Linked DNA regions of Homo sapiens: regions 2, 3, 4, 5 and 6 are each linked to region 1. The links come from fine-mapping of genetic effects on gene expression. A gene starts in region 1. Each other region holds a variant in brackets. All regions are shown on one strand. Distances are from middle to middle.

What was found. PIP is the estimated chance that this variant, and not a neighbour inherited with it, causes the effect.
Region 2: its variant is the best candidate, but not a certain one, in a credible set for the expression of TSHZ3 in whole blood (TOPMed, PIP 0.60).
Region 3: its variant is the best candidate, but not a certain one, in a credible set for the expression of TSHZ3 in whole blood (INTERVAL, PIP 0.57).
Region 4: its variant is the best candidate, but not a certain one, in a credible set for the expression of TSHZ3 in whole blood (INTERVAL, PIP 0.86).
Region 5: its variant is the best candidate, but not a certain one, in a credible set for the expression of TSHZ3 in blood mononuclear cells (TOPMed, PIP 0.77).
Region 6: its variant is the best candidate, but not a certain one, in a credible set for the expression of TSHZ3 in whole blood (TOPMed, PIP 0.52).

Annotation. Positions count from the first base shown.
Region 1 is chr19:31,346,319-31,351,391 of GRCh38, reverse strand. It overlaps TSHZ3 (teashirt zinc finger homeobox 3), which reads left to right and starts at 1,956. Exons shown (of 2, transcript NM_020856.4): 1 at 1,956-2,212. The coding sequence starts at 2,173. It overlaps TSHZ3-AS1 (TSHZ3 antisense RNA 1), which reads right to left. Exons shown (of 3, transcript XR_002958388.2): 1 at 2,475-5,073.
Region 2 is chr19:31,242,043-31,247,115 of GRCh38, reverse strand. It overlaps a transcript of TSHZ3 not described here. Among named protein-coding and RNA genes, the nearest start is that of LINC01791, 77 kb to the right of the region's middle. The variant G/A (reference allele first, on the strand shown) is at 2,523.
Region 3 is chr19:31,225,814-31,230,886 of GRCh38, reverse strand. It overlaps a transcript of TSHZ3 not described here. Among named protein-coding and RNA genes, the nearest start is that of LINC01791, 61 kb to the right of the region's middle. The variant A/TA (reference allele first, on the strand shown) is at 2,363.
Region 4 is chr19:30,790,792-30,795,864 of GRCh38, reverse strand. No RefSeq gene overlaps it. Among named protein-coding and RNA genes, the nearest start is that of LINC01834, 110 kb to the left of the region's middle. The variant T/G (reference allele first, on the strand shown) is at 1,966.
Region 5 is chr19:31,309,800-31,314,872 of GRCh38, reverse strand. All of the region lies in intron 1 of TSHZ3 (teashirt zinc finger homeobox 3), which reads left to right. Among named protein-coding and RNA genes, the nearest start is that of TSHZ3-AS1, 9.5 kb to the left of the region's middle. The variant G/T (reference allele first, on the strand shown) is at 2,597.
Region 6 is chr19:31,391,705-31,396,777 of GRCh38, reverse strand. The region is part of intron 1 of TSHZ3-AS1 (TSHZ3 antisense RNA 1); the gene reads right to left. Among named protein-coding and RNA genes, the nearest start is that of TSHZ3, 45 kb to the right of the region's middle. The variant A/G (reference allele first, on the strand shown) is at 2,676.

The DNA of each region.
Region 1 (5,073 bases):
TATAGCCGGGGAGGCCAGCGGCGGCGCATCTGCATCCTGGGAGACGTCTGGACCCAGCCCAAGCCCGCAGGCTGGGCGAGCGGAGACTTTTGATCTTACCGTGTGGGTGAGATCACTGTCTCCCGGTCTAAAAGAAAAGAAAGCATGCTGTGAACTTTTGAAACAAACTTGCAAAAACAGTCGTAGAGAAAAAATAAAAAGGACACAGGGCAGAAAAAGAGGGAGAAAGAGACTAAAAAAAGAAAAAGATAAGGGGAGGGGGAAGGAAGGAAGGAGAGAAGGAGGAAGAAGTCTGGGGTTTGCTGCTCCAGGAGCGCTCAGGCAGCCGGTGCTGGAGCGCGGGGCGCCCGCCCTCGCCGGGACTGTCGGCCTCGGGGCCTGCGAGAGCGCCAGAGCCCCAGCCGGCGCGCCCGGGCGCAGGGCCGCCTCGGGGATAGTGGGCCCGGAGGCCGCCCCCGCGCTCCAGCAGCCGCCGCCCGGCAGCGCCCGGAGCCGGCCCCGGCGCGGCCGCCCCATTCCCGGCCTGAGAGCTGGCCCAGGGAGACGCAATCGAGCCCGCAGCGCATCGATGCGCCGCCGCCCGCGCCGCTCGGGCTCCGGCTCCCGCTCAGCCGCCGCCGCCCGGGGGTCGCCCGCATGAGCTCCGGCCCACCCGCGCCCTCACCGCCGCCCGTAAGTGAGCCCGCGTCGCCCCGCCGCCCACGCCGCCCAGCCAGCTCCTTCTTGCCGCGGCCAGTCGGCCGGGCCGGCCCGGAGCCTCAGCGACCCCGATCACCAATCAATAATCAATCCCTCTAGTCCAGCAGCCCCGGCAGGCCGGGCGCGGGACACGGCGCGGCGGCCCCCTAGGCTCTCGGGGGGAGCCCCTGGCGGGGGATGGGCAGGGGAGCCCGGTTTCCTTCTCCCGCCCCCGTCCCGCCCTAGGATCGGCCCGCGCCGTGGATGGGGGGCGCGGCCCGGCTCCCGGGGGCGAGGGGCGGGGTGGAGGGACCCTGATCATCCCAAAGTCAGGAGAGGAAACTTGAAGGAACCCCCTCCCACACCGACCCCCGGGACGGGCCCAGGAAAGTTTGTCCGGGGAAAAAAAATTGGGGGAAGTGGCTACGGCGGGTCCTGGGGGAGGAGCTGGGTGGCGCGGGGTCTGAGGGCTGCCCCCACCCGCCCCGGCCCGCGCCCGCCTCCTCCCTGGAGGGGGCCTGCCCGTGGGCTCTGGCTTCCCCGGGGGACGCCAGCCCCGGCCCGGGGACCACGCTGGGGGCTCCGGAGTCGGCGGGTGGAGAGGAGTGCGAGCCGGGTGGGGCAGCTGGGGGGTGGCTGGGGACGAACGCTGGGTGGGAATAGGGGTGGGGGGTAACGAGCGCCCCGGGACGGGCTCGGCGGGGCTGGCGCCGCGCCCCCGCGTGTGCGCACGGGGCGGAGGCGGAGGGGCGGCACCCCTTTCGCTGGCGGGGCGGGGGTCCCACGCGGGCCTGGGGCCGGGGGCGGGGGCGCGGCGCCCCCGCGGGCGGGCGATTGACACGATCATCTCCTTTTCCTTTAAGCTTGCCTGTTGCCGACGCCGCCGCTCCAGCCGCGCCACGGGCAGAAGACTGGACCGCCGAGCCCCGGGCCGCGGCGGCGGCTGCGCGTCCCCCCGGATGCCGTGACCCCCGGCCTAGGGGCGGGGGCCGGGGCAGTACCGGTCCGGGCCGCTCCCGCGCTCCTCCTCCCACCGCTCTGCCCGCCCTCTCCCCGCCCCCCAGCCCCGAACCCCGCGCACCTCGTCTGGGGACGGGGCGGGGGGGGGCAGGGCCGCCGCTCCTCCCCGCCCCCTCCTCCTCTGGCCTCTGGAGCGATTTGTCAAACTTCCCATTCCGCCGGCAGCGCGGTCCTCCTCCTCCTCCTCCACCTCCTCCTCCTCTGCCTCCTCCTCCCCCCCGTGCTCCTCCCTCCCCGAGCCTCCCTCGCCCGCCCTCCTTCTTCCCTCCGCACGTTCGGGGTTCGCGGCGGAGCGCGGCGCGGGGGGGACGCGGAGAGCCTGGGCGCAGCAGCATCCTGCGGGCGGCCGCTCTCCGGGGGGGAGGCTGAGAGCAGGCCCGCCTCGCCCCCCCGCGGGCCCGCCGCCCCCTCCCTCCCTGTCCTCAGCCCGGCAGCGGCGGCGGCGGCGGCAGTGGCAGTCGCCGGAGAAGCATCATGCCGAGGAGGAAGCAGCAGGCGCCCCGGCGCGCAGCAGGTACGAGCCGCTTCCCCTTCCTTCTGCTCTCCTCCTCCTCTTCCTCCGCTCGCCCCGCGCCTCCAGCGGGCGCGACCCCGCTCCTCGCCCCGCTCTTCTGCCCGCACTGAGTAACTCCGGGCGCCGCTCTCCTGTTTGGGTGCGTGCGCCCGCCTCGGGTACCGGGCGCCCCCCGGACGCCCCGCCGCGCTCTGCCCTCTTCCCTCTCGCACCCATTTGGGGAGCCGCTCGCGGAGCGCGCTGAGCCGCGCCAGGTCCCTACCTCCTCAGCTCTCCGGCTGCAGAGGGAATGGGAAGCAACCCCGGCCTGGCTCTTTCTGTGGGTGGCGGGCGGGGTCACCTGAGTTCCCCGGGACATCTTCCGCGTCCTCCGAGCGGCCGACCGCCGGGGGACTGCCTGGTGTCCGCCGAGCCAGGGAGCGCGAACGAGTGAGCGAGCCGGTCCCCTCGGCCACCTTAGTACTAACACGATTGATTCCTCATTTCTTGGGCCCAAACTGGGCACAGCGGTGGAACCCGGAGCGCACAGGGTCTGGGTATTGTCAGATGACTGTCAAGTCCATGTTAGATGCTGGCGTTTCCTTCTCCCCTGTTTGTGTTTCCTCGCCCCCACCCCCTCCTTGTACTGCTGCTCCCACCCTCATCTCCGCATAGCACTTAGTTCTGGGACGTGTCTGAGTACTTTTTTGTTCCTCCTTTTTTTTTTTTTTTCTTCTTCTTTAACCGGGAGTGTCAACTCCTGTTAAGACTGAGCCGATTTTTTTCTTTTCTTTTCTGGAAAACGCATCATTGAAAACAAAACAAAAACCACACACATAACATTATTTTGCAATAATGTCGGTTGGGGGCATGTTGCCTGGAAGAAGGGTTTCTGGCCCGTTGCCATCCTTGATTTGATGACTGATTGATCGCCCGTCATGCTGCTGCCTTTGATCTATTCATTCCCAATAAACATCAATAAATCACTTGCAATAGTGAGGCCAAGCTCTGTGACGTCAGGAGGGCCCTGTCAGTGCAACTTTGGGATTTGGGGCGGATTGCCGAGAGGACCACATATGGACGTGATGTATTTTGATATGAGTAACACTCAGATGTGCAGAGGTTCAGATGCTCCCTGAAGGGGAGGGTTAAGTGGGGCTTCCTTTCTTTTCTTTTCTCTTCCTTTCTTTTACTTCTCTTTTGATGTTAAGAGGGAAGGGCAGAGAGTAGGGTCAGGGCATTGGCTGGTGCCCATCTTGGAGGAAGGCGTTGTAGCCATGGTGCCCTGAGTGCCCATAATTTCCATCATGCCAGCCGGCACTGCCAGGGGACCTCACACGTTGGCTGCACTCTGCACTCCAGACCCCTTACACGGGGTCACAGAGAAGGAATGATAATTCTCTCTTCTCCCAGAAATGTACTTGCCTGCCAGTGTCTTCAGAAAATCTCAGAAGAAAACAGGGTTGGTTTGGGGCTTAGGATGCAGGTTTTGCTCTCTGTCCTCGGTGTTGCCCAAATTTAGAAAGTTTGAAAATTCCAGGAGTGATTGTAGGGAGCTTGCCGCCTCCCTAGTTAACCTCCTGGAGCTTGCTTCTTGCCCGTCCCACCTTCTACTTTAAATTCCAGGCTCAAGCAATGAGCTTATCTACCCAAAATAAACTCTGAAACTTTGGAGGAATCCTTCACAAAGTTGAGTAGTAGGAATGTCTTGGGCTTCTTCCAGTCTTTGAAATTTTTTTTTTCTTTCCTTTTTGGATACACATTTTAAGGTATGTGTGTGCCTCCATCCAATGAACCATATGTGATTACATCTTTACATTTGGTTCAGAACTCTCTCTCTAGTTCATCTCTTCGGTTGCACCCTGCCAATCTGAGACTCGTATTTGATAGCTTCCTCCAGAAAAATATCAGAGGAGGAGGGAACCTGCTGTTGGCTTTATTTATTTATTTATTTATTTATTTTTAGAGCAACCTGTTCACTAACCTTTTCACACTTTTTTTTTTTTTTTAAAGAAAGCCAGCCAGGAAATCTCAGGTCAGTTAAGAAAAATTCATTATATAAAAAACTTGACTGCAGGACTAATAGGAGATGGAAGAATGGTTTTGCTCTATCAAAATGACCCGTCAAAACGACTTTGTTTCATATTTGATTTAATTGTCTCTCTCCTGACAGGCACATTCATCAATAGCTTAATGGTCAATCAGAAGCTGGCAGCATGAGTGCTTTATTTCTTTCCCATACTCGGGTTTTGGATTTACTTTATCAGAATGCCTCTGCCTAATGGACATGTGGAGGAGGGGGTGGAGGCGGACTGAAGAGCTACTTATTTAAGAAGAGTGGAGAGAAAAAAAAAAAACTCCACATTTAGGCTGGTGATAAGTATGCACAGAGGTTTTTTTTTTGGGGGTGGTTTGTTTGTTTGGATGGACCAGAAACTTCCCATTTTTTTCTCCTCTTTTTTAGTTTTCCCAGCTGCAAGTTATAAGGTTCATGCCAGCTTTTGTGGCATACTGGGAGTGATGACAAATTGATTGCTTTGTACTGATAGAGAGAGAGAGTGGGGAAAAGAAAGATGTCTGCTGATTGGTAACTGGAAATCCAGTCCCCAGCAACCTTGAGAATACTCGAGAATTTTTTTCCCCTCCAAACTGAAAGGTCCGCTCAGCCATAAAAAAAGAAAAGTTGTTTTGCCAGCTTCATTAGTGTTCACCTAATTAGCTGTAAACCTGATGGATTCCTGACAGCTTTAATGATTGGAGATGACAAGCTCGACGCAGTGTCATCCAGCAGAATTAGGTTTGCAGCTAGTTTGATGTAATCAAGTTGATATTACACAGTCCTGGCTGCCTTTAGTTGTGCATTAACTCAATTTTCTGCTGCA
Region 2 (5,073 bases), 100 kb after region 1:
AATTTTTCTAATTATAGTATTCCTTCTACATTTACTAATTGTCTTTCTACTGCAAGGAAGAGCTTTTCCTTCTTTTTCATTTATTTATTTATATCCATGTAACTGGTGAATGCTTATTTCATTCAATAAATCATGATTTTCAATCATTATTTATTTTTGTGCTAAATTTGCCTCATATTTGGCCAGTGGGAGTCTCTGCAAATTGGCTTCTTTGTCCTTTTGATATGTCCCTGTTATTCTTTGAGCATTTCCTTACTTTTTGGGACCAGAAGTTTCAGGCTCATCTTGTGCTTTCTCGGTTGCAGGCCTGCAATGACCATTTTGTAAGTGGCCCTGTCTTCTCTTAGAGGAGAATGACATAGAAAGAAACGCCTCCATGCTAAGTATGCTCGTTGCTATTGGAGTTCCATTGCTTCCAGGTCCTCTGTGCGTATGCATATGAACAATTTCTTTATCTCTCTCCTTCTCTCCCCTGACCTCCCTCACTCTCTCTCCCTTCCTCCCTTCCTCTGTCCCTTTTTAAACCATGAGTTTTTACTTATAACTTCAATTTCAATCCAGCACCTTAGGGCTTATTCTGTCTCCTCCTCCCCTTTCCAATTTTATACTCCTTTCTCCAACAATGAGAAACCTGGCTTTGAATGACTATAGTATATTTATTTGTTTGTTCAGTTGTTGACTATTCATAATTATTTTATGTCAGCTATTTTAATTTTTACTGTCAAATTTATGTGAATTGCACAAGTAATACATGAACACATTCTTTTTAAAAATGATTTTAAATACAGGTAAGAAAGATTGTATCCTCCACATTCACCCATACCTTCAGGTCTAATCAATATGATCAATTTGGTATGAATCTTTCCAGACATTTTTCTGAGCCTTATACACCCACAGAAATTAGAATTGTAGTGTTTTGACTTATTTTTATATAAATGATTTGATAGTGTATATTCTGATTAGCAACATACTTTTTTAAATTTAAAAAAAACAAACTCTTGGAGACTTTTGATGTTGTGACATGTCGATTCACTTCATTGCAGCTTAACTCGAGATGCTGAACAATAAGAGAAGTCTCTGAGGTCTGAATACTATTTTAGCATGCCTCATCTATGGAATATCATGTAGTACTTAAAAGGAATGCCCAGCCATTTCATGCACATCAGCAAATACATCCCTAGAGTTGCTGCAGAGAAGTAGGATTGTTGGGACTTAGGACGTTTATATTTTCTAGTTAAATAAATATTACAAATGGATTCCAATGTGGCTGCACTGGGGGCCACACTACCTGCAATGAATGCTGAGTGTCTTCTTGGGCACCACAGGATGGGTTGTAACAGCCCCTACCACTCCGTCAGAGGCAGGGAATGCACTCTTGAGACTGCAACTATCTTGAAGCATCCAGCTTTGTATGGAGACCCCATGTAATCCTCTGCAAGGCTGGTGGCTGACCAGGGCTCTATCAGGTCTTACAGTACAGGAGCAATGATTTTCACATGTCCAGAGCTCCCATCTGATAGTGCAGTTGTCAGATGTAGCTTGTGTTTTAACTACACAGAAGCATTCTGTTACCAGGCAGAAGAACCTTCTGCGTGAGATTTTGTGTTGTTTTGTTTTGAATTTTGTCTATTTTAAAGATAGGCTGGAGGAGATAGGGGTGACCTGAAACCTTGTAAGCATCAATATTTCTTTTAAGAGCAGCTTCTTGTTTCCTAGTCAGATTCATATGAGCAATAGCCCCCCTATCTTTTTTGCCATTTTCCTTCCACATGAGTCCTGTGCACATTATCTTATTTTAGTTCCTTGCCTATCCAATGAGAAGGGTGAGACAAGTTTTTCCCATTTTTCAGCTTTCTCCTACTTAAGGTTGCACAGCAAATGTTGGGGCCTGGACTCAAATCCAGACCCCAGACTTTAACTCCAACATTTTTTCGTAAGTAAGATTTTTGTTTATTGTATACTGACTTGCAACAATTGAAAAATATAGAATATTATAATAAAGAAAAAAATAATAAATCACCAACAATCAACACTATCATCCAGAGATAATAACACTGTGAATATTTTCCTATATACTTTATACATACATAACAAATTACATAGAGTATTTATTTGACTGCTTTATATTGTAAGCATTTTCCAATGATATTAAATTTTCTTTATAAGATTTTAGGCAAGGAGCAGTGGCTCATGCCTATAATCCTAACACTTTGGGAGGCTGAGGTGGGCAGATGTCTTGAGCCCAAGAGTTCAAGACCAGCCTGGGCAAAATGGTGAAAACCTGTCTCTACAAAAATTTCAAAAATTAGCCAAGTGTGGTGGCATGTGCCTGTAGTCCCAGCTACTTGGGAGGCTGAAGTGGGAGCATCACTTGAACCCGGGATGTCGAGGCAGCAATGAGCTGAGATCATGCCTCTGCACTCCAGCCTGGGGGACAGAGCCAGGCCATATCTCAATTAAAAAAAAAGAAATGATTTTGAATGACCGTATACATATCCCATTATGTGGATAAATCACAATTT[G/A]GGCAATCTTCCATATTTGGATGTAGGCTAATTTTATACTGATATACTTTATAGTAGTCCGTTCCCTCACAGCTGTAAAGAAATACCTGAGAGTGGGCAATTTATGAGAATTTCTTATAAAATTTCTTATAAAAGTAGCTTCTTGTTTAATGACAGAGGTTTAATTGGTCACAGTTCCTCAGGCTGTACAGGAAGCATGGCTGAGTAGGCCTCAGGAAACTTTCAGTCATGGTGGAAGGCAAAGGGGAAGCCAGCATGTCTTACATGGCCAGAGCAGGAGGAAGAGAGAGAGTGGGGAGGTGCACACACTTTTAAACAACCGGATCTAATGAGCACTCACTCACTCACTATCAAGAGAGCAGCATGGGGAGGAAATCCGCCCCCAAGATCCAATCACCTCCCACCAGGCCCCACCTCCAACACTGGGCATTACAATTTGACATGAGATCTGGGTGCAGACACAGATGCAAATTATATCATACACTGTCATTGTTATATATAAAGTTTCAAATAACATCCCTGAATGCAAATATTTAACTATATCACTGATCATTTCCTTGGAACACAGACCTAAAAATGGAGAGAAATCCCAGGCCAAAAGTTATGCACATGTTTTAGGTTCTTAATACCTAAAGCTCAAGTCTACTTTAAAAAGGCCTTGCTGATAACCACCCTCAGGGTAGAGCAACCACAGTGCAAACCGCCCTCCTCCAAGTGTATTCCACATGAGAAATCATGATTTGATATTGTTACATCAAGTTTCCAAATGCAGATGAGGAAAACAGAGTCAGTGAGGTTAAATAAGCTTCCTAAGGTCACAGAGAGGGGACCCAGCTCCCATTCCCAGAGCTCGATGAACACCACTCCGCTGCTCCCCCATATCATCTGAACAACCCTGACCTTGGCAGGGGAGGCACGGAGCCCCCGAGGATGGTATCCTGTGTCGGTGGGACATGCATCTGCCCCCACCCCCTCTGCTTCTGCTATTTGAGAGGACTCATCCCATATGCAGGCGGCAGGGCGGTCACCACTATAATACCAGCCTGCCGGGCTCACCTCCCTCTGACACGGGAAAGTTCAGGGCATTATATGATATAGGATACCATGCATGGGTTGGTGTGATACAGTGGGACCCTGACTACACAGGGGTGAGTGGATGGATGATAGTTAGGAGTGACTATGGCAAAAATCCCACAGACTTGTTTTAAGTGAAGTCTGTAAGTGTGTAACAGTATAATTGTAGGTTGAGTTACCAACATGGATTAGAAATGACTAGGGACCAAGCATGGAATTGTGCCAAGGTCAGACTAAGGAATTTGGGGTTGTAGTTCTTCTAAGTGCAGTGGAGAAAAAAAATCCATCAATGACAGGTATGAAGTACTATACTTCTCTTAATCCATATAAACAGTCAGTAGTTATAGCTACAGATATATGTGCATCTTTCCTTTCATTGAAGGCTTCAGACAGGTTGGTTTAGGAGGGTGTGATGGTTAATTTTAGGCATCAACTTGACTGGATTAAAGGATATCTAGATAGCTGATAGAGCATTATTTCTGGGTGCATCTGTGAGTGTATTTCTGGAGGAGATTGGAGGGTGAATTGGTGGACTGAGATGGGAAGATCTACCCTCAATGTAAGCAGGCACCATCCAATCTGCTGGGGTCCCAAATAGAACAAAAAGGCAGAGGAAAGTTGAGTTTGTGCTTTCTCTCCCCTAGAACTAAGGCACCCATCTTCCGCTGACTTTGGACATCAGAGCTCCAGGTTCTCTCTCCTAGAACTGAGACACCCATCTGCTGCTGCCTGTGGACATCAGAACTCCAGGTTCTCTCTGTTAGAACTGAGACGCCCATCTTCTGATGCTTTTGGACATCAGAGTTCCAGATTATCTCTCCTAGACCTCAGACATACATCTGCTGCTGCCTTTGGACATCAGAACTCCAGGTTCTCTCTCGTAGAACTGAGACACCCATCTTCTGATGCCTTTGGACATCAGAACTCCAGATTCTGTTTTCTAGACCTGAGACACCCATCTGCTGCTGCCTTTGGACATCAGAACTCCAGGTTCTCTCACGTAGAACCGAGGCACCCATCTTCTGCTGCCTTTGGACATCAGAACTCCAGATTCTCAGGCCTTTGTACTCTAGGATGTGTAGCAGCAACCCCTGCCCCAGGTTTTCAGGCCTTTGGCCTCAGACTTCAAGCTACACCTCTGGCTTCTCTGGTTCTGAGGCTTTTGGACTTGGACTGAGCCATGCTGCAGGCATCCCTGGGTCTCCAGCTTGCATATGGCCTGTTGTAGGACTTCTCAGCCTCCATAATCATGTGAGCCAATTCCCTTAATAAATAGCCTCTCACTTATCTATCTATGCATCCTATTGGTTCTGTCCCTCTGAAGAACCCTGACTAATACTAAAGCTGTCTTCTGGAAGGGACAAATTTTAAGTGAAGATTCAAAGACCAGGGCTGCCATATGTGAGAGGAAAGTCACTGGCTAAGTAGAGAAGTATGCATTTCAAAAATATGCCTAAAAATCCACTGAGGAAATGAA
Region 3 (5,073 bases), 120 kb after region 1:
ACTAAAAATACAAAAAAAAATTAGCCGCGCGTGGTGGCAGGAGCCTGTAGACCCAGCTACTTGGGAGGCTGAGGCAGGAGAATGGCATGAACCCGGGAGGCGGAGCTTGCAGTGAGCCGAGATTGGGCCACTGCACTCCAGCCTGGGCAACAGAGCAAGACTCCGTCTCAAAAAAAAAAAAAAAAAAAAAAAAAGCAGTGATGGGAAGCAGGGGTAGTGATGGGGCTGCTGACTCCAGGACCGTGGCCCTGAGAGGTGGGTTGTCTTCTCCTAGCTCAGCTGCATTTAGGTCTGACCACTTTCCCCAGCAATTCCCCAGTTTTTGGCTGTAAGAATTTCCCCGAAAAAGCTTCCTGAAGACCATTTTTTGATACCTGACTTCTCTGCAGGATTTAAATAAAAGTTAATGTTTTTAAGAATCTTGTTACAAAAAGTAATACATTTTTATTGCAGAATATTTGAGGAATAATGAAAATCACCAACACTTTTGCCGCCCAGAGATAATCACTGATAACTTTTTGGTTATCCTCTTAAAGTCTTTTTCTATGCATATATTTACATACATACATTTTTTAAAAACAAAAAAATGAAATGTACAGATGGGTTTGCAACTTTTTTCCCCATTTAACTATATATTGTGAACCTTTTCTGAAGTCACTACATAATTCTCAGTATGATTTTTTTATGACCTTGGATTATAATGCACCATACTTTATTTAAGCAGCTGCATATTTTCAGACGTTTATTTTGTTTTTAATTTTTTGCTTTTATAAACAACCTTCCAGGGAACATTTTTAAATAAATTTCTGCAGTTATTTATGATTATTTTCTGAGGATAAATTCCTAGAAGAGGAATTGCTGGGTAAATGAACTACACATATTTTAAAGAATTTTGCCAAGTTACCCTCTAGAACAATTGTATCACTTTAGGATCATCCTAGCAATCTGTGGGTGCCCATTTTCCCAGGCTCTACATAATCTTTTCTTTTTTAGAAAATGTCAGTGTAATAGCTGAAAAATCGTGTTTCACTATTGTTTCAGTTTGCACATCTTTGACAGCTTGCAAAGTTAAACATTTTTCATATTTTTGCTGTTAGTACTTCCTTTGTGAATTTTCTAATCATGTCTTTTGTCCACATTGACATTTCAGAGACTTAAGAATGTAAACCCTTTGTTACATACATTGCAAGTTTCTTTTTCCAGTTTCCTATTTGCTCTTAGATATAGTTATGGCAGAATATTTGAATTTACATGTGATCAATTTCATCAAGATTCTACTTTATGGTAATACACTACCTAAAAGATTTTCCCATTACAAGATCAGATAAACATGCACCTATATTTCCTTCTAGTTCATTTGTATATGTATTTTTAAATTTATAATCCGCTTGACATTTATTTTAGGATGTGGTGTGAAGCAGTGATGAATCAATTTATCTTTAGTGTTTCGCAGTTGTCCCCGCATCATTTCCCCCAGAGACTTGAAAAAGCTCTCCTATTATGGAATAGATTCTTAATGTTCTTTCTACCTGCCCATCCTTGGTCCAATAACATTCTATTTTAATTGTCGTAGTTTTAGAATCTATCTTAATGTCCTTGCAAATGTTTCTAATCTTTCTGTTTGGTCAAACTTTACTTGATTATTTTATTCATTTATTCTTCCAGACAACATTTAGAATCATTTTGTCAGGTTTCAAAGAAAACTTTATTAAAATTTGGATTGGAATTATAATAGACTTATACACAAATTGAGGCAATGGCCCCCTTACAATGTTTAGTCTTCTCTTTCAGGAACATGCATGCACCCCTCTAATTTTACCCTTCTCATATCTTCTTCTATAAAACTCCCTTCTAAAACCACTGGGTCAGGACAGCATCCCAGTCAGGTAGGACTAATATTACTGGACTCAGTTTCAATCAAATTTGGAACCCACAGGTCTGTTTTGAGGAAGGAGGAGATGGAGAGAGGTTAGGATCTAAGATTAGAGTGGCGAGGTAGTGCATGCCCCTCCTTTGAGAACACTCACTTCCAGGAAGGTTCTGTAGGAAACTTCAAATACCAGGGTCTACAAATGACCCTGCAGTCACTGACCCATGTACAATCCTTCTGTGCAGGCTCTGCTTAACATCCTGGCAGCATTGGTAGAGATTTTTATTTAAAATCTGAACACCACTCTCTGCAATCTGTCCATGGGAAGGTGCTAGTAACCTTCAGTGTTCAAATATCCCAGCTCAAGGAAGAAAGTTTGACCCTAAGCTTCTGATTGAAACACAATAAAGCAAATAATGATTGAAAAATAAGACACATATTCTTGGGAACCATGCTAATATTGTCTCTAATAATTTTTTTTTTTTTTTTTTT[A/TA]GACAGGGTTTCACTCTGTCACTCAGGCTGGAGTACAGTGGTGTGATCTCAACTCACCATAACCTCTGCCTCCGGGGCTCATGTGATCCTCCCCCCTCAGCCTCTGGAGTAGCTGGGACTGCAGGCACACACCACCATGCCTAGCTAAATTTTGTAATTTTTGTAGACATAGGGTTTCACTATGTTGCCCAAGCTGGTCTTGAACTCCTGGGCTCAAGCAATCTGCCCACCTTGACCTCCAGAAGTGCTGGGATTACAGGTGTGAGCCACCACACCCAGCCTGAAATAGAATTTGTATTGGTGAATTCAGGAATTACAAGAGCTTCAATAATGTCTTGAAGCTCTTAACTTAACTTGGCAATGCTCCCTCTACTCTCCTTGCAGCTCCCCAGTGAAGCATGGCCTTGTGCACCATAAGCAGATTTGAAGTTTAAGAAGATGACTCTAGATGTTCCACGGAGAATGTTAGGAGTGAGAATGGCCATGGGAAGACCCACTGGGAGGCTGTTGAGTTGCCCAGGTAAGATGATGGTTTTATGGACTTGTTGGGGGTCCGTGTGGATGGAGGGAAGGAACCAGAGTTTACACATATGTTGGTCATAAAAATAAACCAATAAGATTTCATGATGGCGCTAGAGAAGGGAAGATGTCCAAGATGATTCCAAGGTTTCTGGCAGAAGAAACTGGATGGTTGCTGAGATTTGAAAGGTGGAGTAGGAATAGATTTGGGGACAGCAGGGATAGGACTGCCTGGAGCTGAGTTCAAGGCATGCTTGTGTAGATCCTGGATGTCTTGTCATTAAGTGAGAGAAACCTACCTCCAACTTTACTGAGTGAAAAAGAAGAGTTTTGGGGTACGCAATATAAAGCCCACAGGTGGAACAGATTTTCAGCCCCTGGTGTTCAACATTGGCATTAGGGATCTCTCTCTTCTTCCCTCCCATCCTCTCTTTCTTCCCCCTTCTGTTGCTGTAAGCTGTGCTTTCACTGTGCTGCCTTTCTCTTCTAGCAGGCTCTCCCTAAGTTTGGTGGCAGAGTTGGCCCAGTCTCTTCAGGCTTCTATTCTATTCTACCAGCATAGCAATTCCAGTGAGAAAATAGGGTTTTTTTCCTCCTCAAATTGTGTCAGCAAAATTTGTTGGGTGTGAATGGTCTTGACCCACTTTTGACTCAGTAACTCTCTTTATACCAATCTGATTCTGGGTAGATCTGTCATATGACCAGACAATTTTGAAAAGGTATTTGGGCTAGGCGTGGTGGCTCATTCCTGTAATCCCAGCACTCTGGGAGGCTGAGACGGGTGGGTGGCTTGAGGTCAGGGGTTCGAGACCAGCCTGGGCAACATAGTGAAACCCCATATCTACTAAAAATACAAAAAGTTATCCAGGCATGGTGGCACAGGCCTGTAGTCCCAGCTACTTGAGAGGCTGAGGCACAAGAATCGCTTGAACCTGGAAGGCTGAGGTTGCAGTAAGCCGAGATGGCACCACTGCACTCCAGCCTGGATGACAAAGAGAAATTCCATCTCAAAAAAAAAAAAAAAAAAAGAAAGAAAGAAAGAAAGAGAAGAAAAAGAAAAAAGAAAAAGTATCTGCAAGGGATAGTTCTCTAAAAGCAAAAAATGAAAATAAGGAAATAAACAGATTGGACAGACAAATCACAGATGCCTATATCTGCTAATATATGTGACCTTAAAATTTATTGTCTAAGATGTTTTTGAGTCTGAAAGGGGTGCTGTGACTACTTATGCCAGGACACCACATGTAAATAGAGACTTCCCAGAGCAAATGAAGACATATGGTCACCTTATGTCTTGAACACAGGGTGTTCAAGTAGAGATGTTGACTTGTGGTTGGTGCTCAGATGGAAGGCAAGAATGGAATATAGGATTTAGAGCGGTTAGCAGGGAAGTTCTGATGGAATGGTGTATTAGTCCATTTTCACGCTGCTGATAAAGACATACCTGAGACTGGGTAATCTACAAACAAAAAGTTGTTTAATGGATTCACAGTTCCATGTGGCTGGGGAGGCCTCACAATCATGGCAAAAGGCAAAAGGCACACCTTACATAGTGGCAGGCAAAGAGAAAATGAGAACCAAGCAAAAGAGGAAACCCCTTATGAAACAATCAGATCTTGTGAGACTTGTTCACTACCATGAGAACAGTGTGGGGGAAACCACCCTTATGATTCAGTTATCTCCTACTGGTTCCCTCCCACAACACGTGGGAATTATAGGAGCTACAATTCAAGATGAGATTTGGGTGGGGACACAGAAACCATATCAAATGGTATGGGAAGAAGTGGAATTGAAGGAGTCGAAAGAGTGGGTTGAAGATTGAAAGGAGGTGAGGAATTGGGGACAGCATCATATGGACACATTGCTTTTTTTTTTTTTTTAAGATGGAGTCTTGCTCTGTTGCCCAGGGTGAAGTGCAGTGGCATGAGGTTGGCTCACTGCAACCTCCATCTCCCGATTCCAGTGATTCTCCTGCCTCAGCTTCCCAAGTAGCTGGGATTACAGGTGCCCATTAACACACCCTGCTCATTTTTGTATTTTTAGTAAAGGCAGGGTTTCACCATGTTAGCCAGGATGGTCTCAAACCCCTGTCCTCAAGCAATCCACCTACCTTGGCTTCCCAAAGTGCTGGGGTTACGGGCATGAGCCACCGTGCCCAGCTGACACACCGCTTTTAAGCCAGATTGGGAAGG
Region 4 (5,073 bases), 560 kb after region 1:
GCTACCCAGGCATCCTCAGTCCCTCAGTCACCTCACCTCCTCAATCCACCTGCCCATCAGTCCTAACGAGTGCCGGGTTCCCAGTGTCCTCCTAGTGGTGGAGGGCTCACTGCCCATTGACCCCAGCTTTTCTCTGGTGCTGAGAGGGAAGAGGCCTTCATGTTCTAACACAGAGAGACCTGGAAAAGGCCAGTCTGTTCAAACCCTGGGACCACTCCCATGGACCCAGAGACCTGTAGGCTAAGAGGGTGAGAGAAACACATGGCAGAAACATGACTGCAGTTACAATATGCTGTCTGTTGTCCTCAGCCCCTGCCTCTGACTCCCTCAAACACAAGGAGTACAGTACAAGGCCCCATACTAGGAAAGGGAGAAAATTGGTGAGAAAATTCTGGCCCTTGTCCCCAGAAATTCTAAGGAAGTTAGACCATTAACCAAATACAGCGTGATGGAATTGGGTGGAAAAAGAGCTGATCTTCTGAGATGCAACTGGGGTGGTGAGGCATTCCAAGAAGGCTTCCTGGAGGAAGTGTCATCTAAGCTGACTCCTGAAAGATGAGTGAGTGTCAGGCAGGTGAAGAAAGGATATGTGAGGGAGAGAAGGGGAGAATAGGGCCAAAAAGGGGACCCTGCAGGCTGGGAGCCTAATCTTGTCATCATCAATCAAGCCACACCCAAGCACATATGGAGTACATGTGGTTTACCTGGTATCTCGCACAGAAATGGGAAGAGTAGCCCTGACCACCTGCAGGGAGCTCCCAACCAGCTAAGGCAAATGCTTCCCATAAAGAGAGGTGAAGAGGCCGGGCGCAGTGGCTCACTCCTGTAATCCCATCACTTTGGGAGGCTGAGGCAAGTGGATCACCTGAGGTCAGGAGTATGAGACCAGCCTGGACAACATGGTGAAACCCTGTCTCTACTAAAAATACAAAAATTATCTAGGCATGGTGGCTCATGCCTGTAATCGAAGCTACTTGGGAGGCTGAGGCAGGAGAATCGGCTGAACCTGGGAGGCAGAGGTTGCAGTGAGCTGAGATTGTACCCCTGCACCCCAGCCTGTGTGACAGAGTGACTGTCTCAAAAAAAACAAAACAACAACAAAGAGAGGAGAAGAGTTAGGAGGGCTGTCTTTCTGCCTCAAAACTTCTCAAAAGCATAAATGAAGCTGCCTTCCCCTTTTGTTTCCAACTTAAAACCAGAGTTACCACCACCAACAACCGCTTCTTTTGCTGCACCTGGATTCATTGCTGCTACTTTTCAAACATCTCTGCTGCCCTGGGAGGAGCTCGTTGAGCAGCTGGCTTTCCTGGGAGAGATCCACTGGCTCCTGCTCCACCACAGTGACCATGCCTCTTCTTCCCTGCCCAGCCCTCCTCTAACCTTACTTGAGGATGGTGAGGAAGCAGACAGAGGACGTAAAAGCAAGACCAGAAAGGGGCTGGCACCTCCGTTCTCTAGAATTGAGATCCTCCAGATAACACACAATGATTGTGGAAAGAACTGGCAAATTAAAGATAGTTGGTATTGATTCCAAAAATACTTTTGCTTTCAGCAAAATACATCTTTAATTACTTTTCTACTAGCTGTCATTTTTCATAAAGCAGTCTAGACGACTCGTGCCAAATCCTGCAAAGACTGTTTTCAATGAAATGCTTTTTCTTAATATCAAAGATCAGAGAGGGGTTGAAAAATCTCTTCATATGTGAAGTTTAACAAATGCCTAGAAAACTTGTCACACATTCAGGATGGACAGACTCCTATGCTCCCATTGTCATCAACAACTGGTGAAAACACTACCTGCAATTTTCTTTTTCCATCTTCTCATCTCTTGTGAGCTCTTCCATGTGATGGTCTGGGTAAAATATGTACATTTCTATGCAAATAGTATGCATGTTATTTTTGCTTTTTCGCTTTTGTTGGTAATGTATTATCCATAGTTTGAAACTCCCTTTTCCCCCAAGCAGT[T/G]TAATACAAAGACCAAGATAACACCTCTACATGTACACATACAGCTGTAGAAAATATGTAATACTGGACCAGTTCTTTTTTTAATCTTTATTTATCAGAAGTAAGCTGAAATACAGCAAGGCAATGAAAATAATTCAAACATGTTCCCCCCTATAAGTTTGACTAGAAATGACAAAGACAAGTTGAGAATTAGGAAAAGGAACTGTAGCAAAAATTCAGATTTAGCTCTCAGCATCAGAATCAATGTCCAACTCTAAAATTGATATAATTGACTGTTAATTAATTCCCTTGATATTTTCATTAACACTTGGGAGTAACAAGTATTCTATGTAGCATTTCTGAATTATTCACGAGGCCCTCGGATTCCCTAGCAAAGGTGGCACATGATTGATGCCACTCTCAAGAAAGGAGTTAAACTCAAGGTTTCTTTCCATCTGGCTGCACCTTAGTAGGTAAAGAATTGGCAACAAAAGGGAGGGGTGCAGCCAGCAGGGCAGAGGTGTCTCACGTGAGGCTGCAGCTCCCTGCCCCAACCCCCTTCTCTGCTTCTTGCTTCCACAGGCACTCAGCACTCTGGGTGGTAGGTCTGGGCCCCTACCCTTAAATCTTCGGGATCCAGGACCTCCAATGATTACAAAGATTGGCAAGAAATCCTCACCAAATTATGGCTGCAAAATGCATCCAAACCACCACAATGTTCAAAGCTTAGAAACTCAAGTCTTGGAGAAGAGAGAAGTAAGATAAAGTTCAGCGTTAGATTTTGGAAATCTCAGGGCAGCACAGCAAATATCCCTGCAGTGTGGACAGGAGCTCTCCCTGAAGCCATCATCCTCCCAGGCCACTCCCTGCCTCAGCCCCTCCCACATCTTCCTTAGGCACCAGCCTAAGGTGCTCACTGGCCCAGCCCACCACCTGAGTGTGGCGTGTGTGTGTTCAACCCTCTCTCACCCACATCCACTTTTCATCCCCCACTACCTGTGAGCTCCTAGAGCACCCTCTACCTGACTTGAATGAACATCAAGGGGCCAAGCCATGATTGTATATAATTCTAACTATTTGGTTCACCTCCATGAACATGTTATACCTCCGGCCAAGGTGAGCTGTTTGTTCCTTATGTTCAGAAGCAGTAAGAGCATGGGTGACCAGGGAATAAAGCTGACCTTCCAGCCCTGAACACAGCTTCCCAGGGATAGATTATGGGCCAGTGAGTACCAGGTGGACAATCACTTTATCTCACTCCAGCCTGACAATTCCCTTCTGTGCATGGGCCACCAAAGAGCACCCCAACTTCCAGCAGACGATGCCTAACTGCCCTCAGCAAATGATACAGGGCCCAGGCTCCCAGAATCCAGGACTTAGGGTCCTACTCAAACCAACTCCAGGTGCCAAGAATGGCCTGGGACATCACGGGCAAGACCGGCCCCCATTGCCTGTCCTTTTCTTCCAGTTGAAACAAAGATACTTATCTGTGATGTGAAACCTGGGACAACAACCTCCTATATCTGGCCATTTCAAACAAAAAGGCATATTAGTCTCTGCACTATAAAAAATAATACAAATTGTCTTAAGGACAAAATAAAGAAAATGTCATGGGGATATGAGAATGATTGATAGGGCCATGACCTTCAATATGTTGAGGTCCCTTCAAAAGAGTTCCAGTTTGGGATTTAGGGTAGAGCCCTAGCGTACGCACCTCCATGCTTGGAGACCCAAATTCATTCAGCAAAATAGGGGTTGTATCCTTCAAACTGATAGATGATCTGGCTGCAGTGTCCCCGCCTGGAACCTTCTTGGAGTTCCTTATGTCAGTCTGTTTTCATGCTGCTGATAAAGACATACCCGAGACTGGGTAATTTATAAAGAAAAAGAGGTTTAATGGACTCACAGTTCCACATGGCTGGGAGGCCTCACAATCATGGTGGAAGACAAAAGACACTTCCAACAAGGCACCCAGGTAAGAGAGAATGCAAGCCAAGTGTAAGCAGAAACCCCTTATAAAACCATCAGATCTCGTGAGACTTATTCACTACCATGAGAACAGTGTGGAGGAAAACTCCCCCATGACTCAATTATCTCCCTCTGGGTCCCTCCCACAACACGTGGGAATTATGAGAGCTATAATTCAAGATGAGATTTGGATGGGGACACAGCCAAACCGTATCACCCCTGGAAGGGCAAAGAATTCAGAGGGAGGCCCGGCCTCTCTTCCCCTTGTGACATTTCTCAGACAATGGATGCTAGAGAAGGAGGGCAGAAGGGTAGGACTGTTTTGCTAGAAAAAGAAATCACATTCCGTGATCTCTATTGTTTATTGGAACTTAAAAAATAAGTTTTAAAAAAAGGACTCAACAAAATAAACTGAATAAAGTCAAATGAAATTCAGTTCAAGCTTAGGAAGTGCTTGTAAGTAAACATCATCAACCCTCCTTTGACAAGTGGCTTTCCATCACCCGGCAGCCCGAGCGGTGGCCTCGGGATGGTGGCCTGATTGTCAGCTGACAGATGAGGGACAGATCTGCTTGTCGAGAAGCCAGCGGATTGCCCTCGAGTTGTTTGTAATGACAGGAGACAAAGAATGGCTGCTGAGAGTGATCTCTTGTTTTACAAGCTCGGCATCAGGAGAGAGCCTGGTCCTGGAGCCCACTTGGGGGAATGGCCCTAACTGGACACAGCCTCCTCGGGCCACACTCCACCTTTGGCAATTTGCACACCAGGCCAGCTCGCTCCCTGTCATGTGCGTTCAAATAAATACTGTAGTAAAAATGATAAATCCTTTCTGCCTTATGAGTCACCGCACTCCCCGCTCTGAGATTTCTGTCTTTTATTGTCACTCTGAAACCATTTCCAATCATTTTTTGCATTTGATCTCGATTGTCTTAAAAAATTAATCAGACACATGTTCACTATGTTTTTATCCAACTGTCTCCAGAATGTTTTTCGACAATTTAGAAAAATGTTTTGAAAAATAGTAAAGGGAAATATTTAAGTAATTATGATCCTCACATTGCGGGGCCAAGTGAAGTAAACTAATGCAATGGAAACATGTTTTACAGATTTGTTTAATTATTTTTAAGTACAATGAAACTGCATTGCTCTGGGGGAAAGATT
Region 5 (5,073 bases), 37 kb after region 1:
GGGGCCATGAGCTGAGCCTTCCCCTGGAGCTGTGCCCCCAAATTCCTTCCCCTTCTTTTTATTTCACTGCCTGCTCTTCCAGACAGCCCCGGAGGTGGACACTCAAGGGGTCTGAGAATGACGGTGATTACAGAGCAAGGTTCATCCAAACGGTTAATTTCTCCCATTCTGGCTACAAAGTTAATTAATGTAATCTAACGCATCTTGAGGCAAAATTATGCACTCACATATGAATAAAACCCTGATCTATTGCAAAATACGAATCTGGCACTCGGAACAATTCACAATCACTCAAATTACAAGTTATGCACAAGAATGTAGTATCACAAGGGGATGTGAAATCCTGTCATTAGAAATGATTCACAATGCATCAGAAACCCGGCCCTGAGAAGGTTGGGCAGAAGGAGGTGAGCAGCCAGATAGCTGGGATGGACTTGTGCAGAAGCAGGGGTGCAGGCAGAGCCCCACCGTGCAGGTGAGACACGGTTCCGGCCGCTGCCCATGTGGCTTCTCAGGATTGCAGTGATGGCCGACCATGCCTCCCTGCCGCCCGCTCTCTCTCCCATGGCTCTGGAAACACCCTTGCCTGCATGTAGCAGTGCTTGGCAAAGGAGGCTGGCATGGCTGGGGCCTGGCCTCAGCATCTCTCGTGCAGACTGTAGGGAAAGAAGGCCTCTAGTCCTGGCCTTAGAAGCCGGAAGGAGGCATCCTTTCTGGTTGTCTAGGGGACAAGGGAGGCAACCCTGTGTCATCATGTCATCATCATCCACCAAGCATCTTCCAATTGCATCCGGTGAGCCCAACAGCCACTCGAGAGGCAGGCACGAGGGGGTCTGACCTGCCTTTCCCAAATGTGGACCTGGGAAGCAGGCAGAGAGAAAGGCTCACCGTCATTACCCGAGATGAAGGTATTACCTGATTTACAAGTGAAATTCTGTGGCGCAAAGACTTCCAATTGTGTGCTGCAGGTTGCAGCCTGGTAAGTGAGTGTCGGTGCCAGGATGCAGGTACCCGGACTCTCAGTGCCATACCCTTCTCGATAATACCCCACTTCTGGTAGTGCATGGCTATGAAAGGCTTGGCTCCGATGGGGCCTTTCTAGGGCAAGGAGCAGGGATCCTTCAAGTCCCAGGATCCTTCTCGTTTGCTGAATGGCTACGGCCATGCATTTCGTTGTTCAGGGGACTCTCACCAATCTGTCCAAACTCAGGGTGAATTCACATGTCACATGTCGCTGCCTGTTTCCTGGGTGTCTGGGAGAGGTGGATGGGCCTCACCCTCACAGAGGCACTGGCATATGTGTGGGGACAGGAACCATTTCCGCAGCCCAACAGGCAGGTGGTACGCAGTGCCAGGAGCGTGGCCACCCTAGTCCCTGCCAGGTGCCCACATCCGCACGTGGCAGGCATGTAGCTCAGACTCCTCGCTGCCCTCCAGCGGTGCACACTTGGCTTCCAGCTCCCGGTCAGCAGCCAGGCATGGGGGCCATCGTTCAAAGGTGGAGCATCCTGTCTGTGATTGATAATGGCTCACTGCAAATTTTACATTTTTATTAGCATATTTATGAACATTGAGGTTTAATAACCACTACCTCCTCCAACTGGACATTCAGAGGTTTTAATAGAAACCTGACAAATTCCCTTCCAAATCTCGGGTGTGGAAATGCTAACAGCAAACGCTGGTAGCAGAGCAAAGCCCTCACCTGGGGCTTCCCGCAGAGTCTCCTCTGGAAGCCTCTGTGACTGTTCCTTGCCCCCAAGCAGGTTTGGCATCCTGAGTCCCAAACCTGTCATGCTGTTTGACGTTTCTGCATACCACATGCACTGCCTGAACTTACTGTTTACACACGTTTTAACTCAAATAAATTTATTTTTAAAAGGAAAGTGTGTCACTCCTATAAATGAAGACCCAGAATCACTTGCCATAAAGGGAAAATAACCATAAAAATAAACGCCGTGAAATCAAACAATGTCATTAAATCCTAGCTGAATTCTCTTGCCTTCCTACCGGAGTCTAATGCCTTATCTCTCTTCTTTAAAAAGGGGGATTAGCAAGTGTTGGGGAGGTGTTAAAGACCAATAGCACCCACCGGATACTTTCTCCTTGAAGCAATCAGAGGGAAAAAGATGGAACTGACAAGGGAGTAATTTATTACCGTGTGATTCAAGATGAACCACCTCATATTTTCTTGTACCACCGGTGGAACTCCTCCCACACTCTGAAAGATTCTGGATTTCAGCGAACACTGACTTCGATTAACTTCCCAAAGGGGCCCTGAAAGCCCCAAAAGGGTTAATAACTGTTTCTGTAGGAAAGTGTCTTTTCTAAAGAGGAAGAGAGAGGACATTAGGAAGCCAAGGGGTTCAGGAAGCAACAGGAGAAGTCCCCTCCAGCCAGCAATGGAGTGTCCTGCTCTGATGGGAATTTGCTGCCCTGAGCTGTCCGATAGGACTACCCCATCGGAAGTGTGATGAGTGCAATGGAGGATCTGAACTTTACATTTTGTTTAATTTTAATTAACTTAAACATATATAGCCCCATGGACAACACAGTCATTAGCCCCATGGACAGCATAGCTCTAGATCCTTCTTTTGTG[G/T]TTCTGTGCTTATTTCTCTGACCTAAGCCAGCATCTGCTGATTCATAGTTTCCAGCCGTGGGAGGGAAGATGGGCCTCTTCTCAGCAGTGGTGTGCACAGCACAGAGCAGCCTGCAAAACACTCTTTTTGTCCAGTGCTCCTCTCCTAGCAACCCTGGGAAACATTGGTGTCACCATGCCTGTTTTACAGATGGGGAAACTGAGACTCAAAGGCCATGACATGGAGAAGCCAGGATTTAAAGAGGAGTGGCTTGGCCGGGTGCAGTGGCTCACACCTGTAATCCGAGCACTTTGGGAGGTTGAGGCGGGCGGATCACTGGAGGTCAGGAGTTCGAGACCAGCCTGACCAATATGGTGAAACCCCATCTCTACTAAAAATACAAAAATTTGCCAGGCGTGGTGGCGCACACCTGCAGTCCCAGCTACTCAGGAGGCTGAGACAGGAGAGTCCCTTGAACCCGGGAGGTGGAGGCTGCAGTGAGCTGAGATAGTGCCACTGCACTCCAGCCTGGGCAACAGAGAGAGACTCTCTCAAAAATAAACAAACAAATAAAGAGGGGTGGCTCTGCTCAAAGATCTCTCACCCTAACAGTGAATGGACCCTAAACGGGATTCTCATCTTCCAGTCCTCATGTTCCACCCATGCCCCCTGAGCATTGATCAGTATGGAGCCCGTGAGCTGGGCAGAGGGGCAAGTTCCCTTCACAGTGCAGCACCTTCTGTCCTCTGCTTCATCTCTGCATGTACTGGAGGACTCCGTAGGACCAAGACGTCTCCTTCCCATAAGGAACAAACCCTGTGCAGTCGGAGGCCACAGGCGAGACTCACCCCAAGAAGGTCCTGTGACAGGAGGCAGGCCAGAGCTCAGCAGCACATTGGCACCTATTTTGTTTCTCTCTTTCCCAGCTTCTCCTGCCTCCCCAGACACGAATGCTCTTGATCTGTCCTAGGATTTGTTGGGGGTGAGTGGGCTATAGGGGAAGTGCTGATGAATAAATCCACAACCAAAGTGTTAGGTGGATTAATAACCCCCTTCAGCCTTCAGACCCCTCCATCCCAACTTGCTTGAAGTTTATCTGCTTTTTATAAGAGTATCTAAAACAGGGCAGTGCTTAGCCCAGAGTCTGTCTGACTTGCTACTGGTGAAACCCTTGGCCTGAGACGGAGAGAGAATTTTGGGTGGCTGAAAGCCTTTTGGCTGCCACCTTACCAGGTGGCACCACCTCCCTTCCTGGTCTCAAGAGGCTGAGCTGATGGCACAGGCAGGAGTTTCCTGGACATTGCATGATCCTTCCAGCTGCAAGGGTGGGGCCCAGTGAGGGGCTGAAATGTCGCCCTAGAGATCCTGGCCTTGTCACTGCAGGAATCTTCCTTGCTGATGGAAAATTCTAATTTCTGTAACCCCAAAATAACTGTTCTTTACTGAATGCTTGCCACATGCCAGGCATGGTGCTAAGTGCTTTATGTGCATAATTCCATTAACAACAATTCTTAAAAGAGAGGACTTTCATTCTCATTTTAAAGGGAAGAACCAGAAACGTAGAGAGGTTTTGTAGCTTGCTCAAGTCCTGCTGTGGCTCAGGACAGAACAGAAGATGGACCTAGGCCTGTGAGGTCCTAGTGTCCTTTCACATTGTGACTTATGCATCACACAGAGCCCGCACTCTGCCCACCCCTTTCCCTGCATTCATTCTGAATTCTGTGCCTGAAGGAGGAATGTGGCCTCCAGCTTGTCATAGATTGGTGGAACTGCATCTCCTTTAAGAAGGTGGAAGGGATTCTCTCCTGAGCAGTGGGTCCCTGAGTTCATCCATTCATCCATGCAGCAGATACTTGCAGACCACCCTGGACACCAGTGCACAGGATCGGTGCTGCACCAAAAAGAAAAGGAAATGCATGTGGAATGGCCCCCAAACCCTCACATCTTCCTAGGAAGATGAAGGAAGACTGTGGTTTTTCTCCTCTAATCTGCCCCACACTCTTTGCTTTGGGTCACTCGACTCTTCATCTTCACTTCTGGTCCATTGAGAGGCAGCTTGGAGGAAAGAGGCTCATTACCTGGGACCAGAGTAGGGAAGAGACATGAGAAGGTTGAGACACCGAGTGGAGGCTTAGCAGATGGGGCAACATGACAACATAATGAATGGGCCCCACAGTTCCAGGGATGGGAAGGAGATGTCGCTCAAACTCAAGGAAGGAAAACATACTTGCATGCATTTTCCCATCATCACAAATTCCTCCGAGGGCACCAGGCTACTGGAGTATGTGTTGAAACAATTTGAGCAGATGTTTATTAAGCACCTGCTCAAGCCAGTGCTGGCAGGTGCCAGGGACACCAAGACAGGCAGTCCTCAAGGGGGTTGGAGTGTGGAGGATGAGACTCAGATGCACGTAATTCTGACGTGGGTACCATGATGGAAATGACCGTGAGCAGGATGGGAACATGGAGAGGGATGCCGTGGCCATCCCAGGGGGTG
Region 6 (5,073 bases), 45 kb before region 1:
TTATTGTTATAAAATATTAAAACATTACAGATAAGAGTAAAGTCCTCTCTGACCCTCTCCCATCCCAATCCGCCATATATTCTGTATTATCATAATTATCTGTGGGTGTGTGGCCTTCAGGACATGTTCTTTGTATTTAGATGGAAAACGTACGGCATTGGTAGAAGACGAGGGACTGTCCTCCGTGCCATACTTGTTCTCTACATAAACATGACGTGGACACTTCTCTATTACTCAGAGGTAAACCATACATCTTGTGTCTGGTCGCTATGCACCATTTCCCTGTTGTGGGGCTGTCTGGCTAGTTTTGGCTTTTGATGTTTACTGCACCATACTATGGGAAGCATCCTTCCATGGGACTCATTGACTGTCGTTTTCTGAGAGTACACACCTAGTGTGGAAATGCTGGAACAGCAGAAGATTGGCACGTTTATAGCTGTGCTAGAGGTTGCCAACTTGCTGTCCTAAGGGCTTGTGAGTTGTGTGCACCCCTACCCAGTTCTCACATCCTCCCAATCCTTTATACTGTCAGATTCAAAAGTTTTGCCAATTTGGAGCCATAGAATGCTGTTTTAGTTCACACAGCATGGACCACTGGTGAAATCGAGCAGCTTTTATTTATTGATCATTGGCTTTTCTCTAAGAAGTCTTAGCCTTGACCTGTCTTTCTATTAGGTGTTTGTCTTTTTCTTATTTGTTTATGGTTTTCTGTGTTCACGCACACACGCACACATTCTAGACGCTGATCCTTTCAGTTTATAATGCCTCTGTAAGTCATATCTTAAAGGATTTTCTCCTTCTCCATCTTCTTCTCATCACCATTCTCCTCCTTTTTCTTCTTGGGAAAATCCAGACAACGTTGAAGAAGCATATTTACCTTTGGCACATTCTGGAAACTTCTTTCTCATCTTACCTCTGTTCTAACATTTGCAGCTTATGGAGCTAAGCAGCCTTTCTAATCTGTTTTCTTGAAGCTCTATGATTAATAAAAGCCATGAATTCTGATTATTCCAAAGGACAGGAATGTCATGTATCACCCCTGCCCACATATCTCTGGTGTGCAAGGCACATGTGACTAATTCATCTGAAAACTCCCTCGTCCTAAGCCTTGTTCAGCCTCAGAACCCTTCTTAACAATAGTGGCCACCACCATGACTCGGTTGGAGTTGGCCTGTAAGAAAATCTATATGCTGTCACTGCCTCAGCTTAATCAAGTATGTTTTAATCATCCCAGTTAACAGGGGTTTCAAAGCCTCCCTACCTCACAATGATTAACTCATCAGAGTTTTCATTAAAAAGAAAATCTCAGCTAATTGGTTTGACCTCTCCATTTAGGAAAATGATAATAATAACAAGCTAACATTTATTGAGTGGTTAGTATGTGCCAGACAGTGTGTAAAATGCTTTACACGTATTTTCTCATTGAATCTGACAGCAGCTACTTAAGTGGAATGGTGTCATGTCACGGGAAAAAAGGCAAAAACAGTGCCTCTGCTGCTCTGAACTTGACCCTTTCCTCTCCTACGATGTGAGCTGCAAGAAGTCAGCTTTTCCTTCTGCCTGACCCATTATTATGTAGCATGCTTATCCTCTGATATGCTCAAAACGGACTGTGGCACAGTGAGCTTTCTTGTCTTTGCGGTCCAGAATGCAGATTGAAGATTGGTAGAGAAATGGTAGAAAGAGATTTCACTTGCAAAGTCCTGCTGCCTGTAGCTGATGGTGTGCCAACCAGATAGCCTTTAGCAGGCTGCAGTCCATGCACCTGACTTCTGCTATTAGGTTGGTGCAAAAGTAATAGTCATTACTTTGGCAAAAACCCTAAATCATTTCTCTTAATTCAAAGTGTCACAAATCTCTAGGGCAGGGGCAAAATGTCACCAGTCTCTTTGTGAAAACATATCAAGAGTCACCCTTGATCCAGTTCCCAACAAGTTCCTCATCTCCAGCTGAGACCACCTCAGCCTGGATTTTATTGTCCATATCAGCATTTTGGGCAAAGCCATTCAACAAGTCTCTAGGAAGTTCCAAACTTTCCCACATTTTCTTGTCTTCTTCTCAGCCCTTCAAACTGTTCCAGTCTCTGCCTGTTACCCATTTCCACATTTTTGGGTATCTTTTCAGCAACACCCCAATATACTGGTACCAATTTATTGTTTAGTCTGTTTTCATGCTGCTGATAAAGATATACCTGAGACTGGGAAGAAAAAGAGGTTTAATTGGACTTACAGTTCCACATGGCTGGGGAGGCCTCAGAATCATGGCGGGAGGCAAAAGGCATTTCTCACATGGTAGTGGCAAGAGAAAATGAGGAAAAAGCAAAAGTGGAAACCCCTGATAAAACCATCAGATCTCGTGAGACTTATTCACTATCATGAGAATAGCATGGGAAAGACCGGCCCCCATGATGAAATTACCTCTCCCTGGGTCCCTCCCACAACACATGGGAATTGTGGGAGCTAAGATTCAAGATGAGATTTGGGTGGGGACACAGCCAAACCATATCACAATACATTCCAAAGGCCACCCAGAACCGGTTCTGAATTCTATAAGCCTGGCTCTCCCCTGGCCAGCACCTCAGTTTCCTAGACTGGCAGCATCCTGGCTGCGTGGGGTACTCATGTTCTCAGATACCTGAGTCCTTCTGATTTTTCCTGTTAACCTTGGGCCACATC[A/G]ACACAATATCTGGTGAAGTAGTTCTCTTGATAAATAAGAAACAAAACAACAAAAATCTAACTACAACAACCGTTGGGTATTTTTTTGTTCCATAGTTGAAATATCTAACTATCTTTGTTTTTAAAATGATTAGGCTTGGCCAAGTGCACTGGCTCACGCCTATAATCCCAGTGCTTTGGGAGGCACAGGAGGGTTGTTTGAGACCAGAAGTTTGAGACCAGCCTAAGCAATGTAATGAGACCCTGTCTCTACAGAAAAATATAAAAATTAGCTGGGCACTGTGGTGCATGCCTATAGTCCCAGCTACCTAGGAGGCTGAGGCGGGAGGATTGCTTGAGCCCAGAGACATGGAGGCTGCAGTGAGCCATGAATGCACCACTGCACTCCAGCCTGGGCAACAGAGTGAGACTCTGTCTCTAAAAATCAAACGAATAAATAAACAAAACACTATTAGGCTTTATTTAGTTATAAATTACCCAAATCACCACCTGAGTTCTCTCCCTTTGCTTTTACATATGTAAACATAACTTCAATACTAAAAGAGAATTTTTTTTTCCTTCTTCCTCAGAAATCCTACTAAAGTCAAGGGCAAAGGGCATCAGACTCATTTTTGATGTGAAGAAACCAAGTCACAGAGAGGGTGGCTTGCCCTTGAGGGCTCCATCTAGGAAACATCATGGGCCCATTAATATCTGGGTTGAAAAATCCCTTTCCCAGGCTGCTCTGAGCTCCCGTCTGAGCCTCTCTCCCCAGCCCCTCACTTCCCTGGGCCAGGAGTCAAAGCCTGCCCTGGAGTGACAAACGTGAAACCCCAGCTCTGCTCTGTCAAAAACCACTAGGGTCTGTCCTTTCCTCAAGGGCTTCCACTCATACACCCCAGGAGCTGGCCGAGCAGCAAGGCAATGTTTTCTGCCTTCCTTTCCATCTTGCCAGCTGCCTCCTGGACAGAGCTTTGTTTAACTCTCCCTGCAGTTCCCCTGGAAGACTGAAGAATTTGCAAAATGACCCCAGAACAGGGCTTCTAGTCAACTGGTCCTCTCCTACCCCTCACCTGGGGACAAATGCCATTTTTTAGAATTTCCTCCTGAGGTGGCAAACTAGCTAGAGATGAAGAGTCACACTGAGAAAGAAACCAAAGAGCAATTATTTAAAACCAAGTTTTCTCTCTCTTCTGCATCCATATTTGGGACAATGGCTCTCTTTCGGGAGGACAGATGATCCCTTAGCACTCAGGACTGGAATACCAGGCGAGAACTTCAAAATGGGAGAGTGCAGGAGGGAGGGAAGGCTCAATGGAGCATTTTCACATTGCAACAGGGTTGTTTCCAGGTTCATGTCAATTTATTCAGCAATCAAGAGCAATCCTCCTCACTTTGCCAAATGATGCAATAGTTCTCTCCCATTACAACAAGGAATGGGAGATGGTAAACAAACAGCATTACGACGTCACAAATCAATTTTATTGAAAACGTATTAGGTTTCAGTACAACTGAAGGATCAGACACCCAAGGAGAGAAAGGCAGGGGAGAGGAGACAGCGCACCAAGATTTACTTCTGAGTGCTACAAAATATTGAACTAAAAATAACATTAAAGATGATATTTGTAATGAATCTCAAGCTGCTAAATTCCCCAAGGCCGGTTCTGCCAAAGGCTTTGCTGCAATCCTCTGTTCTTTCTTGTCTTTATTTAAATATTTTATACAGTTGTCTATGTTCATGTGCAGTGTGAACTGTCATTTATATTTCAGTCCACTTTAAAATGGATCTGAGGCTACTTCAAGCTGAGCGCCGCACGGAGCGGGTCTGCGCGGAGAGGTAGGTTGGAATGCGGAGAATAAATGAAGATGGATCCTTAATGTACTTTTTGTGTACTTATATTTGCCTGTCATGTTTTCTGCCTTAAACCTGATTTGTAATTCTATGGGTTTTGTGACATTATGATAAGATGCGATCCGTGGAAAACTCACATTTAGCCGGGACGTTGATGGGCATTTGAGTTAAAGAGAGTGGTTGACGGGAGAGAGGCAGAATTCGGACCCTGCGGCTTAATGCTTAGTGGAACAACTTGCTTGGTCTGGAGCTGTAGTATTTCATGCTTTTCTATGCATTAGACTTTGCCAAAGTGAAATTTTGGAAGAATAAAACATTTCCAAGATAAATTCAATTTTCCCCCGTATTGAACTGAACTTTCTATGTCACTTAATGATGTAGGGGAGTTTGGGCAGAAAAGTGCATTTTGTTAGTTTGCACACCAAGGAGGTGGGTTGAGAGTAAGTCGGGAGGCCAAGTGTGAAGGTAAAGGAAGGAGGGCTGGAGTGGGAAACGTGGACAGCCCTGGAGGGTCCTCTCAGACTCATCCCACAAAAACGTGTGTGTGTGTGTGTGTGTGTGTTGTGT